2 separate regions of the Homo sapiens genome follow, and region 2 is linked to region 1. Evidence: fine-mapped expression QTL. A gene starts in region 1. The other region holds a variant in brackets. All regions are shown on one strand. Distances are from middle to middle.

Evidence for each region.
Region 2: its variant is fine-mapped to the expression of CNGB3 in testis (GTEx, PIP 0.94).

Annotation. Positions count from the first base shown.
Region 1 is chr8:86,740,196-86,748,736 of GRCh38, reverse strand. CNGB3 (cyclic nucleotide gated channel subunit beta 3) reads left to right here and starts at 5,103. Exons shown (of 18, transcript NM_019098.5): 1 at 5,103-5,238. The coding sequence starts at 5,110.
Region 2 is chr8:86,690,777-86,698,776 of GRCh38, reverse strand. All of the region lies in intron 3 of CNGB3 (cyclic nucleotide gated channel subunit beta 3), which reads left to right. Among named protein-coding and RNA genes, the nearest start is that of CNGB3, 49 kb to the left of the region's middle. RefSeq lists an enhancer at 4,109-4,754. The variant G/T (reference allele first, on the strand shown) is at 4,875.

The DNA.
Region 1 (8,541 bases):
TGTCATCACATAAAATCACACTGGCAAATATTTCTAAATAATTCTATACATATTTTATGAGGGAAAACTTCCTCTAAGTATCAGTTGCTATAATTCCACTTCATAAGATCATTAGTCAATATCATCAAGAAAAATAAATATACTCAGAAATGTTCTTTGAATATTTATTTTTTGAATGCAAAGTTAACGTTTTGCTAATCCTACAATAATTAAAAGAACATAAAATCAATGCCATCAGTTTCTTTTGAGACTGATATGGTCTACATAGTATATATAAAGAAAATTGTATATGTTTCATGTTTATTGTTAATACTCAACAGTAGTTTAACAAGTCTTTGTTATGTATCTACTATATTAAGGGCACTGTGCTGGCCACATAAACTGCTAACTATTGTAATACCTTAATTCACTGGATGTTGTTTCTGATGTCTGGACCTTTCAACATCTGCCTGGAATATCTCTCATCTTTCAAAACCTGTCATGAGCATTAGCTCCTCCGCAGAGCTTTACTCCCCATTTTACAGTCCATTCACACAAAGGCAGACTTGGTCACCTGCTCTTCTCTGCTTAGGTGGCATGGCTCGCACACTGCCATTATGGAAGCTGTCTTGAGATTGTCTATAAACCTTCCATCTTTCCGTCCCAAAAGGTGAGTGTGCACAGGCAGATGCCATATTTTGGTCATCTCTGTATACCCCACAGCAGCTAGCTGAGCACCTGACACACACTAAGAAGCCAAATCTTCACTGCTCAATAGAATTATATGCTTTAATATACAGAGTATTTTAAATTTGAGTGCTTCAGAAAACACAATTTGTTTTATTCAATTGATTGGCAAATATTTGTTGAGAATTTAACTTACAGCAGGGAATTTTTGTCTGTCATCTTATTCCTTGGCTTGTGTAATCTAGCCTGTTATTCCAGCTTCCATTTTGTAGATGAGCACCTAAACCTTGTTCGCAGGTAACCAGACATTGCTAGTAACTTTTTTCTCTAAAGTCTTATAATTTTTTTTAAAAAAGCTCATAATTTACTCACCTGTTTTCCTGCCTTATTAAGTATATTCAGCGTAGTTAATTTTTCAGAACTTGGTCAGTGTTCAGGTTTGTTACCAGGTTATTATCTTCTCCTAAAAATACACAGCCCTGAACCTGAGATGGGGGAAAACTTCTGGGAGTTTCCCTTCAATTACTGTTTTAGGTTATCTACTGTAAACCAGCTATTCCCTTTATACTCGGTGGTTGCTCTTCTCTTATTGAAATAATATTCAGACTACTTGAACTTAATTCAGAAAGATCTTGGAAAATTGCCTAAATGTTTCTTTCTAGTAGACATAGGGGAAAATATAACCTTAGTTGGTTTTATAACCTTAATTTGTTTCCAATAATTTGCCAAAAACAAACAAGTCTTCAACCCTTGACCCCGTCCAGAAGCAGAGGAGACTGTGATTTGAGAATTACCAGAAGAAAGTCCTCCTCGTTCAAAATTGCCCCCAGTGGGAATGTCTGAAATTCCATCATTAAAGATTCCCTCAAAGAAAGATAGCATTTCCCAAACCTGACTCCTATTAAGTGAAAACTTTATTACAGATCCTATTTGAATAATTCATAAGAATAATACTTAAATATGTTCCAACCTGAAACTAGATATAATCTTCATTTGCTTATAATTTTTATAGAACCATAAAGCTAAAACTTGTTTGAAAATTTAACATAAAACTTAAAAATCAATAAGATTAAAACAATGCTGTCTGTAAGATGGCTAATGCTCTGCTGAAAATAAAATTACTAGTCACAACAAGAATATGGAACTGTTTGCTAATGATGATAATCTTTTTGTTTTAGCATAGCTTTATTACCATCTGATTTGTATTTTACGTGTTATATTCCTATGTGCCATCTGTATACCATCTACGGTATCTAAGACACCATTTGTTTTAAAACATACCATTATTTTATGCATGCTTCTCTCAGCCTATCCCAACTTCAGCCTGCAATGGCTACTAATAAAAAACAATGAGGCTACAACATTTGCATTCTTCCAGGGAGATTTTTTCCACTTCTCTTACACACTGCATCTACCACAGAGAATCTCTTCACTGTTAATCTAGAACTAAGAGATGGTCTATACCATCTTCTTCCTGTTATTTATTCAACAAACATTCATGGAGTACCTAGAATATGTCAAGCACTGAGCTGGGCACAGGAATCTGAAGGTGGCCAAAGCATAGTCTCTGCCTGCAGGAGCTTATGCTCTAATAGAGAAAATAGACCTGGACATGGCTGTAAAATGAGAAGTGACAAAGTAGAGATCTCTGTATGGCACAGATACAATTGCAACAAAAAGACAGGATTATAGGTATAGCTGTCCATGGTAGAAGAGAGGAACGGTAGGAGAAGGAAACACCAAGCTTAAGCTAGATAGACAAGAAGTGGAACAGCGTTGCAGGCAGGGGAACAGTACACATGAGCAAAGACATGGGTACAGGCAAGAAAAAGCAGAGAAGTTCAAGCTATTTTAAATTACTGATTATGGCAAGAGCCAAAAGAGAGGTCGGGGTTACAGATTAAACTAGAGTTAGGCAAAGGTCAATGATATAAGGCCGGGAATGTCCTGGTAAGGAGTTTATACATTTATGCTGTAGAGAAGGAGGAGTGGCTGAGGGGCTTCAGTTAGACAAACAGTCCGTTATATTGAAGAAAAATTGTTTTTATTCCCATTGTCATACACTACCTCAGCAATATGGCAACTTGGTACAAAAAAATTAAATTGTTATTGGTGAAATTCTAGTAAGCCATTTCACCCAGAATAAGCAACCCTCCTTCTTCCCTTATCTTCTTGCTGATTAGAAGAGCTCCTCTGTGGAAGACCACAAATCACAGAATTTAAAACCAGAAGAAAACAAACATTGTTTTTTCCCAACCTAGTTATTTCCAGGTTAAGGCAAGAGATTTACTTTAGTCCACAGAGCTACTAAAGTGAAAAAGAATGATCCAAAATTCATGTCCTTCATTCCAGAATTCTTTCTAGTTGTCCATTTTCCAAACTTTGAGACCTCTGATCTAGACAAAATAAAAGTAGTCATTTATAATTTTAATGCCCATGTTAATGCCACTCTATTGTCAAAAATCAGGTTGTTGGAGGTATTTTAAATCATTTTAAAGGTGCTTGAATTATTTAATAATATCTCCATCCCATTTATTCTGACCTGTGACAAATCTAAAGGGTTAAATTGTCAAAACAGACTAGCCAGAATCACAGATCTTACATAGCACCAAACTTTATTAATGATTCGTTGGCTACAAGCCGCCATCAGGAATAAACAAAACATTCATTTTGGGAAAAACCCCAAACTGTCAGACACAGCATCCAAACAAAACAGACCATTTTTCTCCTGCAGTTGGCATATTTTGGTTTTGCATTTACAAGTAATTTTTGAGCATTGTCTGCAAAAACATTTCTCACAAAAAGAAGGCAGTTTGGTTTGGGGACATCTTCGTTCCACATTCTCTTACAGAGCTTACATAGCACCTCTCTCTCCATTCTCCAGCCAGCCTGCTAAATTCCAGGCTTATTTACAATAAGCAATCTAGACAGACCAGAAATGTCCTGCTAAAAAAGTTTCATAAATAGGGACTCCCTGGTATCTTTCCACTGATAAATACTATGAGATTTATACGAAAGTCTGGTGAGGTCATTTTTTCCTCTGCAGGTCTTAGGAAGGGAAAAAATTAGTCACAGGCTGGCTGTTAACACCTTCCCTTCCTTTGGCTTAGCTTCTATGCTTATACCCAAAGTTCAAAATGTAATCAATTACAGGATTACAGGATTATCTGAAAAGTTCCTAAAATGGCCCTATACATATTTGATAATCTATTCAGAATTATTTCTGAAGCAATAATGGAACCAAAACACCCCCCACCATTTTTTAACAAAAATAAATAGCTTTGTGTTTCCAGGCCATATAAGTCAAATCATGTATTCAATTACGTTATTTATTAGGTAAGTTTATTTTTGATAAAATGGTTGAATCTAAAATTAAAACTTCTAATTTATTTTAAAAATCCATAAGGGAACTGCGATTTTGGTAATATGAAATCTAAATTAAAATGCTTTCTTCATAAATACTTAAAGGCTTTTTTCTGTATTAACTGTAATAAACGTATCTTAAAATACATAACTAGTATCTCAAGGAAATTTCCAGATTGCAAAAATACAGAGGGCAAGAAGTATTTGATGGGTTGACTTAGGCTGCCCTGGGTGTGGGTGTGTACCTTGTTGCATAAAGGCTTTGGTTTTAATTTGAAACTGCAGAAGATAAGTGCTCTCATTAAAAACAAAAACAAAAACAGAACCCCTTTAAAAAAAATCATGCGTCTTTGGTGCACTAAAAAATCTCATCCAACAGCATAGAACATCAACTTTGTCTGGGCTCCGGGCAAAGGGGAAAAAAAAGTTCTCTTTAACAAATCTTAGTCTTGTATCTTTGCCTCACACAGGTTTGGGGTCAAAAGTGACACACACACACACAGAGGCAGAGTAGAATAAGCAGATTTTTTTTTGTTTAGCCATGTGGAAATCAACCACCAGAAGAACAGAAAAAGAAAGCTTAAAAATAGTGGCCTAACATTGCAGGACCAGAGAAGGGGATTTTGAGGAGTGAATGAGTTGCTTCATATCATAAGCCCTCATGGATTTTTTTTAATCATTTCCATATTACTTTGCATAAAGTTAGACAGATAAAGATAAGTAGGTGGGTAATTAGAAGGAAAAAAAAAGAAAGAAAACAATGTGTTGTGTGATCACATTTAAACCATTCAAATCAACTATGAAGCTGTGTTTAATCCTCTACTTCTAAATTATTCACAAGATCATTTTGACTCCCTAAAGTTCATAAACAGAGTGCAAATCACCCAAGCAGAAGTATTTTGCTGCTTTTAAGCCAAAGCCCTGACTAGCTAAGGAGTTGCCTGTAGGAATTAACCAGAACAAAATCCTGATTAAACAGCTAATTGGCTTGTCTACTAAAGAAAAGGAAAACAAAGTACATTTCTCTACCTTAAGGCACAGTCATAAATACAGAGGGTTTTCAGAACCACCTCAGAGAAGATGTTTAAATCGCTGACAAAAGTCAACAAGGTGAAGCCTATAGGAGAGAACAATGAGAATGAACAAAGTTCTCGTCGGAATGAAGAAGGCTCTCACCCAAGTAATCAGTCTCAGCAAACCACAGCACAGGTATGTCCTCTACATTCCTATGCAAGCCTTGATTTTCATCATTTCTTATCTGGTAATAGCATTTAATCACTGCTACGATATATGATTGTTTAGTAGTTTTACCTGGCACCATCTGGTACATGTACTGTGTCGGGCTTATCTTCATTAATTTATATATTCTGTATGTATTTGTTCATAAAAAGAATAATAAATGTTTAGGAGACTATACTAGGATTTGGAAAAGCCAAGTAAGACTTCTCATTGCTGATTTTCACTTCTACCATCATCCAAAATGAAACCATTTCTCAAATATTAAATTGGTTACTTGATTGAGTTTCAACAAAGAACATCAAGTATCCTGGTCTTCATAAACCACATGTTAACAATAAATCTCTAGAGCAATAGGAAACCTATTGGCTCTCAATTGAGAGCGATTTTACCACTCAAGGGACATTTGGCAAATCTGGGGACACTTTCAGTTGTCATAGCTCCGGGGTGGGGATGTTACTGGCATCCAGTGGGTAAAGTCTGCAGATGCTGCTCAACATCCTATCATGTACAGGACAGCCCTCCACAACGTAGAATTATACACTACAAAATTTTAATACTGCCAAGGTGGAGGAACTTTAAACAAGCCTTTTCACAAGTTCTAAATATATTTTTCTGCAAAATGTATATGATAATTTCTGCTTTGTTATGAGAACTAGAGACAGTAATATATAAAGCACATGGTAGGTACTTTACAAGTGGCTATTATTATTATTAATAAGAATTTGTGTTTCTGTGACAGGTTTAAGTCCTAAGTGATCATTACAAGAGCAATATTTACTTAGAACTATCCACAGAATAATTTTCGTGAATTACTCACTAGAATTATCTAAAAGAGCTACAGAAGATTTTTAGAGCAGTAGTTATTTTGCCATCTGAAACAGCTGGATGAGAGATGACAAGTACAAGCAGGAGTGCTCCTCAGGGACTAGGGGAGCATAGTCCAATGGTTCGGGTTTAAATGAGCCTAGAGGATAGACAACACTGAGACTATTTAACATGGGCCGTGGAAAATCTGCCTTCCTTTTCTGATTAATGTTGACTGCTTTGCAGTAGAGAGGAGATGAGGAGGACTGTGTTAGTATTGCTTCGAGAGAGTGCCCTTGACTTCTTTCTAATTCTTATGTCAAAATAAATAATCCCACACTAAGTTATCTATATGTTTAAGAACTCATACAATGTCACAAATATTGAGCTGGTACTTTCCTTCAGCTAGTCTTGCTGTGTTTTGCTCTGGGAAAGTCACTACATCCATCTTTAACCCTTGCCTACTGTGATTATTTTCCAAGGGAGCACATAAAAACCGTTAATAGCTAATATATTATTCTCTTGGAGAACATTGTAACTAACAGCAATTACTATTTGCCAAGCAAGGTGCTAAGCCCTTTTCTAGGGCTACTGTATTTAATCCTCACAACAGTCACAGGTCCTATTACAATTTGCTCCTTACACATAGCTAGCAAATGGCAGAGCCTGGATTGGAACCAAGTCCTATCTGAATTCAGCACCTGAGAGCTAAATCACTAGGCTATACTGCTCAAAACAGGAGGGATATTAGTTGAGTCAACCCTTTAAGATACTTTGCCTGCAGGATAAACGGAAATTAGAGAGAAGGCGAAAAAAGAAGAGAAACTTCTTAAAGAGTTATCTTTCCTTTCAAAACAGGAATATTGGAGAAGTACTTAGATTAGGCACAGGTAGAGCACCCCTTAGGTATATCCCATGCCATTCCAACAGCCATAATTTGTGGATATTAATCGCGAAGTCTACTGGCATCACATTAGATTTTTTTTTTTTGTTTTTTTTGAGACAGAGTCTCATTCTGTCGCCCAGGCTGGAGTGCAGTGGTGCAATCTTGACTCGCTGCAACCTCTGTGTCCTGGGTTCAAACGATTCTCCTGCCTCAGCCTCCCGAGTAGCTGGGATTACAGGCACATGCCACCACACCCAGCTCATTTTTTTGTATTTTTAGTAGAGACGGGGTTTCACCATGTTGGCCAGGCTGGTCTCAAACTCTCGGCCTCAGGTGTTCCGCCCACCTTGTCCTTGCAAAGTGTTGGGATTACACGCATGAGCCACTGTGCTCAGCCACATTATATCTTAAAAGTCATATTTGGGCAATTATTTGCATCTGTTCTTTCCAAGAACATGTGGGTATGGGAAAAAATAGTTTATCTCCAATTTCAAATATGCTAAATGTTAAAAATGACAGAAAGTTAAAATCCTGTTTTCTTTCACGGAATTCGACCTTTCAAAATGGCATTTAAACAATAAGCCTCTGAACTATGAATAAATGATTAGAGTCTTATAAGCAAATATCTAGGAATAAATATATCAATGTATGTTGTGTTTTTTAAAGAGTCATTTAAAGAGCTCATTTACACACCAAAATGTCATGGGTAATTCTCACCTATCAATAAACAATAATTTAAGAACTGCAAATCAGTCTAATCCAAACTCTCTCTTACCCCAGAAGAAGACACTCTTCACATAAATCTACATTTGTATACACATAAAGACTATGATATAAATATTTATGAATAACATCATAACGATGCAAAAGGACTTGATTGAAGTCAGAAGGCTTTTTCACTGTTTATAAATAGTCCTGGACTTATACCTTTCTAGCTACGTTCATATAAACTAGCCACTCAATCAATTTCATATTCAATAATATAATAATATTAATAATAATAGCTGCCTTGCCTAATGTATATGGTTATTGTGAGGCTTAAGTGAAAATCAGCCAATTAATTTATTTTTTAGTTTAAAATGCTTCTATGAAACACAAGGCTTATAAATAATGTCAAAACTCTATAGCAGGCACACAAGACTCTCAGTGTCCTTCTGGTCCCTGCCTACTCTCAAGCCTCATCTACTCACCCTTTGTCCCATCCAACCACTCCTACTGTAGTCTCTCCCCACCTATGTACAGTCACGCCTTTGGCTTTTGCTAAACCTGCATCATCTGCCTGGAATATTTTCTAAGTCCTCTCCATGTGGAAAACAAAAATCTTATCTTTATAAAGTCAAGAGTCACTTTCTTTGGAATAGTTTCCTTTCTTTCCCTTCTACTCCAGTAGAATTGACCACTTCCTGTTTATGCCCCATCCTAATCCTCTACAGACATTGATTCGTCACCTACATTTTCTTGCACTTAACATTTTTGTGTGTTTGTTTCCCCTTCTAGACTGTGCATAGCTTGGGAGTCAATCTTTATGTTCTAACCTCATATCTTGTTTCACTCTGCCCCTGTAGGAACATCCTGAGGCACAC
Region 2 (8,000 bases), 50 kb after region 1:
TTTTCAAACCTTCACCTCTCTCACGTTGAAAATCCCAACTCTTAACACCCTCTCTAACAAACTACCCCTTCCCACCAACCACCACCACCTACCTCACTCTATCATCTAAATCTGTTTCAAGATACAAAAATCTTGGTAATTTATATCTTAACACAAATTACCTACTACCTCTTCAAAAAGCAAGTTAAGCCTGATTCTAATTGTGGGATGAAAAGCTTTTTCCCTATGAAGAAATTTTAAATATCATCAAGCATGTGGAGAGGTGCTAGCGAGGGAATGGAGCAAGGAATCAAATTCCATAGGCGATTGTTTTCTCTATCTTTGTATAAAAATGTCCTTGCCCCAATTAAAGCCTCCACCAAGTACAAGGTTGAAATGTGCTTTTTATTCCACTCATTAAAGAGAATTAGCTAACCTAGACTATAAAGTCATAATAACATTCATACAAAGGTAGATTCAAATCTGTTATTTGTCCCTGATGAAAATGATACTTATATTTGGTTTTCAAAGACTATCTAAATAACAAATGACATTTAGAAGAATCTTCATTTACTAATAACTTGAATCTGCTGTATACAAATGAACAAATGAATTCATTTTCAAAGAGGGATATGATATAGAATCTGGAAACTATCGGTCACACAGCTTTATCAGATCTTTGGCAGAACACCAGAATCAATGGCTAAATGTGATTTTTGAGCACTTAGAAAATAAAAGGTTCCCAAATGTCCACCAATGATAGACTGGATTAAGAAAACGTGGCACGTATACACCATGGAATACTATACAGCCATAAAAAAGGATGAGTTCACGTCCTTTGTAGAGACATGGATGAAGCTGGAAACCATCATTCTGAGCAAACTATCGCAAGGACAGAAAACCAAACACCACATGTTCTCACTCATAGGTGGGAACTGAACAATGAGAACACTAGGACACAGGGTGGGGAACATCACATACCAGGGCCTGTCATGGGGTGGGGGGAGGAGGGAGGGATAGCATTAGGAGATATACTTAATGTAAATGATGAGTTAACAGGTGCAGCACACCAACATGGCACATGTATACATATGTAACAAACCTGCACGTTGTGCACATGTACCCTAGAACTTAAAGTATAATAAACAATTAAATAAAATAAGAAAAGGGTTCCTAGATAGCAAGTGAGTTTTGCTAAAATTTTTTTAAAGTCCAATTAATATTATTTTAGTAAATAATTTGAAAATGTCTTGTAATATCTTTCATACAGTTGGAAAAGTGTACCAGTGAATTCATAGCAAGCTGAACAATTGTGCCCACTGAATTTTAATAAATGAACCTGATCTCTAATGACATAACTACAGACTCTGTATTAAGAGTGTTAACTTGATCTCTAATGATATAACTACAGAATCTATATTTTGTATTGTGAAGATCAACAATTCTTTGCCAGGACCAAGATAAACTCATAGATTCCAAATCCATAAATAAAATAAGATAGGATAGTTAATATATCTGTGATGGAATAAAGAGTAGTAAATTGAAATAACAGAGTAAAACAAATGCAAGCAGATTTTGGAGGCAGTGCAAGGTAGCCAAATAGAAGCCTCAAGCAATCTTACTTCCTACAAGAACACCAATTGAACAACTATCCACCCAAAATATGTTATCATCCATAAGTAAGGACTTCATCTTGCCAGTTTGTTATTTGCTTTCTGGTTGATTTGTGGTCTTCTCTTCCTTCTTTCTTTCCTTCCTTCCTGTCTCTTTTTAGTGAAGGTGATCTTCTCTGGTGGTATGTTTTAATTCATTTTTTTGCATCTGTTGCATGTTTTTTGATTTGAGCTTATCATGAGGGTTGCAAATAATATACTATAACTCATTATTTTATATTCAATGATAACATTGAAAGTAAATGGACCAAACTCACCAACCAAAAGACATACTGTGGCTGAACGGATTAAAAGATACACACTTCACCTATAAAGACACACAGAGACTGAAAATAAAGAGATGGAAAAAGATATGCCATGCCATTAAAAACCAAAACGAAGCAGGAGTAGCTATGTGTATATAAGGCAAAATAAATTTCAAAACAAAATTCTAAAAAGAGTCAAAGAAGGTCTTTATATAATGATAAAGGTGTCAATTCAGCAAGAGGATATAACAATCATAGGAAAAATGGTGGATAGAAGACAGGACTAACACGCAGCTCCCACTGGATGGATAGAACAGTGTCTGGAGACACACATTATGAACTTTTGCTCCAAGAACCACTGTAGGAACATACTGGAAAAACTGGAAGAATTCACAGACCCTTTGAAAGAAGTGGCTTGTCACTGCAGATGCCAAAAACCAGCCAAAAAACCCTGAAGACAAAAGACGTAAGCTCTTGGGATCTCTATGGCCCCACTCATCACCTGAGAAACCTGAGTACTCATCCTGGCCAACTCAGGGCAAGATTATATCCCCCTTCTACTACTGCAGCTGTACTCTCTTGGAAGCACCACCTCCTGACAGGAGGCCAATCAACTCAAGCCATTACAGCAACTCATAACAGAACACCCTGCTCTAAAGAAGGAGAAAACAATAGATAACTCCACTGCCTGCAACGCCCTGGCTAATCAGAGGTCCTGAGTCCATCCACATGACAACTTGACTGCTAGCATAACCAGCATTCAAGAAAACCAGCACACCAAAAAATAACTACAACCAAGGACTCCCATAGAGTCCCTTTTACTCTCCTGCCACCTCCACCAGAGCAGGTGCTGGAATCCATGGCTGGGAGACCTGAAGATAGATCAAATCACAGGACACTTTTCAGACATTCCTCAGCACCAGCCTGGCACCCAGTAGCCCTACTGGGTGGCTGGATTCAGAAGAACAATAACAATCACTGTGGTCTAGCTCTCAGGAAGCCCCATCTCGAAGAGAAGGGGGAGAGCACCAAATCAAGGGATTACTCCATGGGACAACAGAATCTGAACAGCAGCCCTTGAGTCCAAAATCTTTCCCAAATGAGAAGGAACTAAAAAAGTAATTCTAGTAATACTATTAAATGAGGTTCTATAACACCCCCAAAAGATCACACTAGCTCTCCAGCAATGGATCCAAACCAAGATGAAATCTCTGAACTGACAGATGAAGAATTCAGAAGGTTGATTATTAAGCTACTCAAGGAGCCACCAGAGAAAGGTGAAAACCAACTTAAAGAAATTAAAAACAAAAAGGAGGATATGAATGAAAAATTCCATAGAAAGATAGATATCGTAAAGAAAAGACAATTACAACGTCTGGAAATGAAAGACACACTTAGAGAAATGCAAAATACACTGGAAGGTTTCAACAATAGAATTGAACAAGTAGAAGAATGAACTTCAGAGCTCAAAGACAAGGCCTTCGAATTAACCTGATCTGACAAAGAAAAAAATAATTTTTTAAAAAATGAACAAAGGCTCTCCCTCTCCCTCTCCCTCTCCCCCTCCCCATGGTCTCCCTCTCCCTCTCTTTCCACGGTCTCCCTCTGATGCCGAGCCGAAGCTGGACTGTACTGCTGCCATCTCGGCTCACTGCAACCTCCCTGCCTGATTCTCCTGCCGAGTGCCTGCCGAGTGCCTGCGATTGCAGGCGCCACCGCCACGCCTGACTGGTTTTCGTATTTTTTTGGTGGAGACGGGGTTTCGCTGTGTTGGCCAGGCTGGTCTCCAGCTCCTTACCGCGAGTGATCCGCCAGCCTTGGCCTCCCGAGGTGCCGGGATTGCAGACGGAGTCTCGTTCACTCAGTGCTCAATGATGCCCAGGCTGGAGTGCAGTGGCGTGATCTCGGCTCGCTACAACCACCTCCCAGCCGCCTGCCTTAGCCTCCCAAAGTGCTGAGATTGCAGCCTCTGCCCGGGCGCCACCCCGTCTGGGAAGTGAGGAGAGTCTCTGCCTGGCCGCCCATCGTCTGGGACGTGAGGAGCCCCTCTGCCTGGCTGCTCAGTCTGGAAAGTGAGGAGCGTCTCTGCCCAGCCACCATCCCATCTAGGAAGTGAGGAGCGCCTCTTCCCCGCCGCCATCCCATCTAGGAAGTGAGGAGCGTCTCTGCCCGGCCACCCATCGTCTGAGATGTGGGGAGCGCCTCTACCCCGCCGCCCCATCTGGGATGTGAGGAGTGCCTCTGCCCGGCCGCGACCCTGTCTGGGAGGTGAGGAGCGTCTCTGCCCGGCCGCCCCGTCTGAGAAGTGAGGAGACCCTATGCCTGGCAACCACCCCGTCTGAGAAGTGAGGAGTCCCGCCACCCGGCAGCCGCCCCATCTGAGAAGTGAGGAGACCCTCCGTCCGGCAGCCACCCCGTCTGGGAAGTGAGGAGCGTCTCCGCCCGGCAGCCACCCCGTCCGGGAGGGAGGTGGGGGTCAGCCCCCGCCAGGCCAGCCACCCCGTCCGGGAGGGAAGTGGGGGGGTCAGCCCCCCGCCCGGCCAGCCGCCCCATCCGGGAGGTGAGGGGCGCCTCAGCCCGGCCGCCCCTACTGGGAAGTGAGGAGCCCCTTTGCCCGGCCAGCCGCCCCATCCAGGAGGGAGGTGGGGGGGTCAGCCCCCCGCCCGGCCAGCCGCCCCGTCCGGGAGGGAGGTGGGGGGGGTCAGCCCCCCGCCCGGCCAGCCGCCCCGTCCAGGAGGGAGGTGGGGGGGTCAGCCCCCCGCCCGGCCAGCCGCCCCGTCTGGGAGGGAGGTGGGGGGGTCAGCCCCCCCGCCCGGCCAGCCGCCCCGTCCGGGAGGTGAGGGGCGCCTCTGCCCGGCCACCCCTACTGGGAAGTGAGGAGCCCCTCTGCCCGGCCACCACCCCATCTGGTAGGTGTACCCAATGGCTCATTGAGAACGGGCCATGATGACAATGGCGGTTTTGTGGAATGGAGAGG[G/T]GGGGAAGGGTGGGGAAAAGATTGAGAGGTCGGATGGTTGCCGTGTCTGTGTAGAGAGAAGTAGACATGGGAGACTTTTCATTTTGTTCTGTACTAAGAAAAATTCTTCTGCCTTGGGATCCTGTTGATCTGTGACCTTACCCCCAACCCTGTGCTCTCTGAAACATGTGCTGTGTCCACTCAGGGTTAAATGGATTAAGGGCGGCGCAAGATGTGCTTTGTTAAACAGATGCTTGAAGGCAGCATGCTCGTTAAGAGTCATCACCACTCCCTAATCTTAAGTACCCAGGGACACAAACACTGCGGAAGGCCGCAGGGTCCTCTGCCTAGGAAAACCAGAGACCTTTGTTCACTTGTTTATCTGCTGACCTTCCCTCCACTATTGTCCTATGACCCTGCCAAATCCCCCTCTGCGAGAAACACCCAAGAATAATCAATAAAAATAAATAAATAAATAAATAAATAAATAATAATAATAATAAAAAAAAATGAACAAAGTTTCCAATAAATTTGAGATTACATTAAACAACAAAACATAATTGTTGTTCCTGAGTAAGAAGAGAAATCCAAAAGTTTGGAAAACTTATATGAGGGACTAATCAAGGCAAACTTCCTTAGTCTTGCTAAATATCTAGACATCCAAATATAAGAAGCTAGAAGAACACCCAGGAAATTCATAGCAAAAAGATCAACACTTGGGCACACAGTCATCAGGTTGTCTAAACTCAAGATGAAGAAAAGCATCTTAAGAGCTATGAGGCAAAAGCATTAGGTAATCTTAAAGGAAAACCTATCAGATTAACAGCAGATTTCTCAGTAGGAACCCTGCAAGCCAGAAGGGATTGGGGTCCTGTCTTTAACCTCCTTAAACAAAACAATAATCAGCCAAGAATTTTGCATCCAGTGAAACTATGCTTCATAAATGAAGGAAAGATATAGTCTTTCCCAGACAAACAAATCCTGAGAGAATTCACCACTACCATGCCAGCACTATAAGAACTGCTAAAAGGAGCTCTAAATCTTGAAACAAAACCTCAAAATACACCAAAATGGAACATCCTTAAAGCAAAAACTTCACAGAATCTATAACAATAACACCATGAAAAAAAAAGGTATTTAGGCAACAACTAGCATGATGAATAAAACAGTACCTACCTCACATGTCAATACTAATATTGAATGTAAATGGCCTAAATGCTCCGCTTAAAAGATACAGAATGGCAGAAAGGATAAAAATCCACCAACCAAGTGTCTGCTGTCTTCAAGAGACTCATCTAACACAAAGGACTCACATAAACTTAAGGTAAAGGGGTGAAAAAAGACATTCCATGCAAATGGGCAACAAAGGCAACCAGGAGTAGCTGTTATTCTAACAGACAAAAAAGACTTTAAAGCAACACCAGTTAAGAAAGACAAAGAGGGACATTATATAATAATAAAAGGATTAGTCCAATAGGAAAATATCACAATCCTAAATATATATGTACTTAACACTGGAGCTCCCAAACTTATAAAACAATCATTAATAGACCTAAGAAATGAGACAGATGGCAACACGATATTAGTGGGGGTCTTCAATACTTTACTGACAGCCCTAGACAGGTCATCAAGACTAAAGTCAACAAAGAAACAAGGGACTTAAACTATAAACTACAACAAATGGACTTTATAGATATTTACAGAACATTCTACCCAATAACTGCAGACTATACATTCTTTTCATAAGTACGTGGACCATTCCCCAAGATTGACCACATGACAGAATACGAAACAAGTCTCAATAAATTTAAGAAAATCAAAATTATAGCAAGTGCTGTCTCAGACCACAGTGGAATAAAATTGAAAATCAATTCCAAAAGGAACCCTCGAAGCCATGCAAATACATGAAAATTAAATCACCTGTTCCTGAATGATCATTTGGTCAACAATGAAATCAAGATGAACATTAAAAAATTATTTGAACTGAACAATAATAGTGACATAACCCATCAAAACCTCTTGGATACAGCAAAAGCAGTGCCAAGAAAAAAATTCACAGCATTAAATACCTGCAACAAGAAATCTGAAAGAGCACAAAGAGACAATCTAAAGTTACACCTCAAGGAGCTAGAGAAACAAAAACAAACCAACCCACAACCCAGCAGAAGAAAAGAAATAACCAAAGTCAGAGCAGAACTAAATGAAATTGAAACAAAAAATACAAAAGAGAAATGAAACAAAAACACTGGTTATTTGAAAAGTAAACAAAATAAATACAGCATTAGCAAGATTAACCAAGAAAAGAAGAGATAAGATCCAAAGAAGCTCAACTAGAAACAAAATGGGAGATACTACAACTGATAGCAATCGGCATAGAAGGGCCATAACTTAAGGTAATAAAAGCCATCTATGACAAACCCATAGCCAACATAGTACTGAATGGGGAAAAGTTGAAAGCATTTCCCCTGAGAACTGGAATAAGACAAGAATGCCCACTCTCACCACTTCTATTCAACATAGTACTGGAAGTCTCAAGCAAAGCAATCAGAAGAGAGAAAGAAATCAATGGCATCCAAATTGATAAAGAAGAAGTCAATGTTGCTGTTTACCAATGATATGATTGTATACCTAGAAAACCCTAAACACTCATCCAAAAAGCTCCTAGATCTTATAAATGAATTCAGTAAAGTTTCAGATTACAAAATAAATGTACACAAATCAGCAGCACTGCTATACACCAACACCAACCAAGCTGAGAATGAAATCAAGAACTCAACTCCTTTTACAACAGGTGCAAAAACAAAACAAAACAAAACTTAAAATTATACCAAACCAGAATTGGAAAAAACTACTTTAAAGTTCATATGGAACCAAAAAAGAGCCTGCATTGCCAAGTCAATCCTAAGCCAAAAGAATAAAGCTGAAGGCATCACACTACCTGACTTCAAACTATACTACAAGGCTACAGTAACCAAAACAGCATGGTACTGGTACCAAAACAGAGATATAGATCAATGGAACAGAACACAGCCCTCAGAAATAACACCACACATCTACAACTACCTGATCTTTGACAAACCTGACAAAAACAAGAAATGGGGAAAGGATTCCCTATTTAATAAATGGTGCTGGGAAAACTGGCTAGCC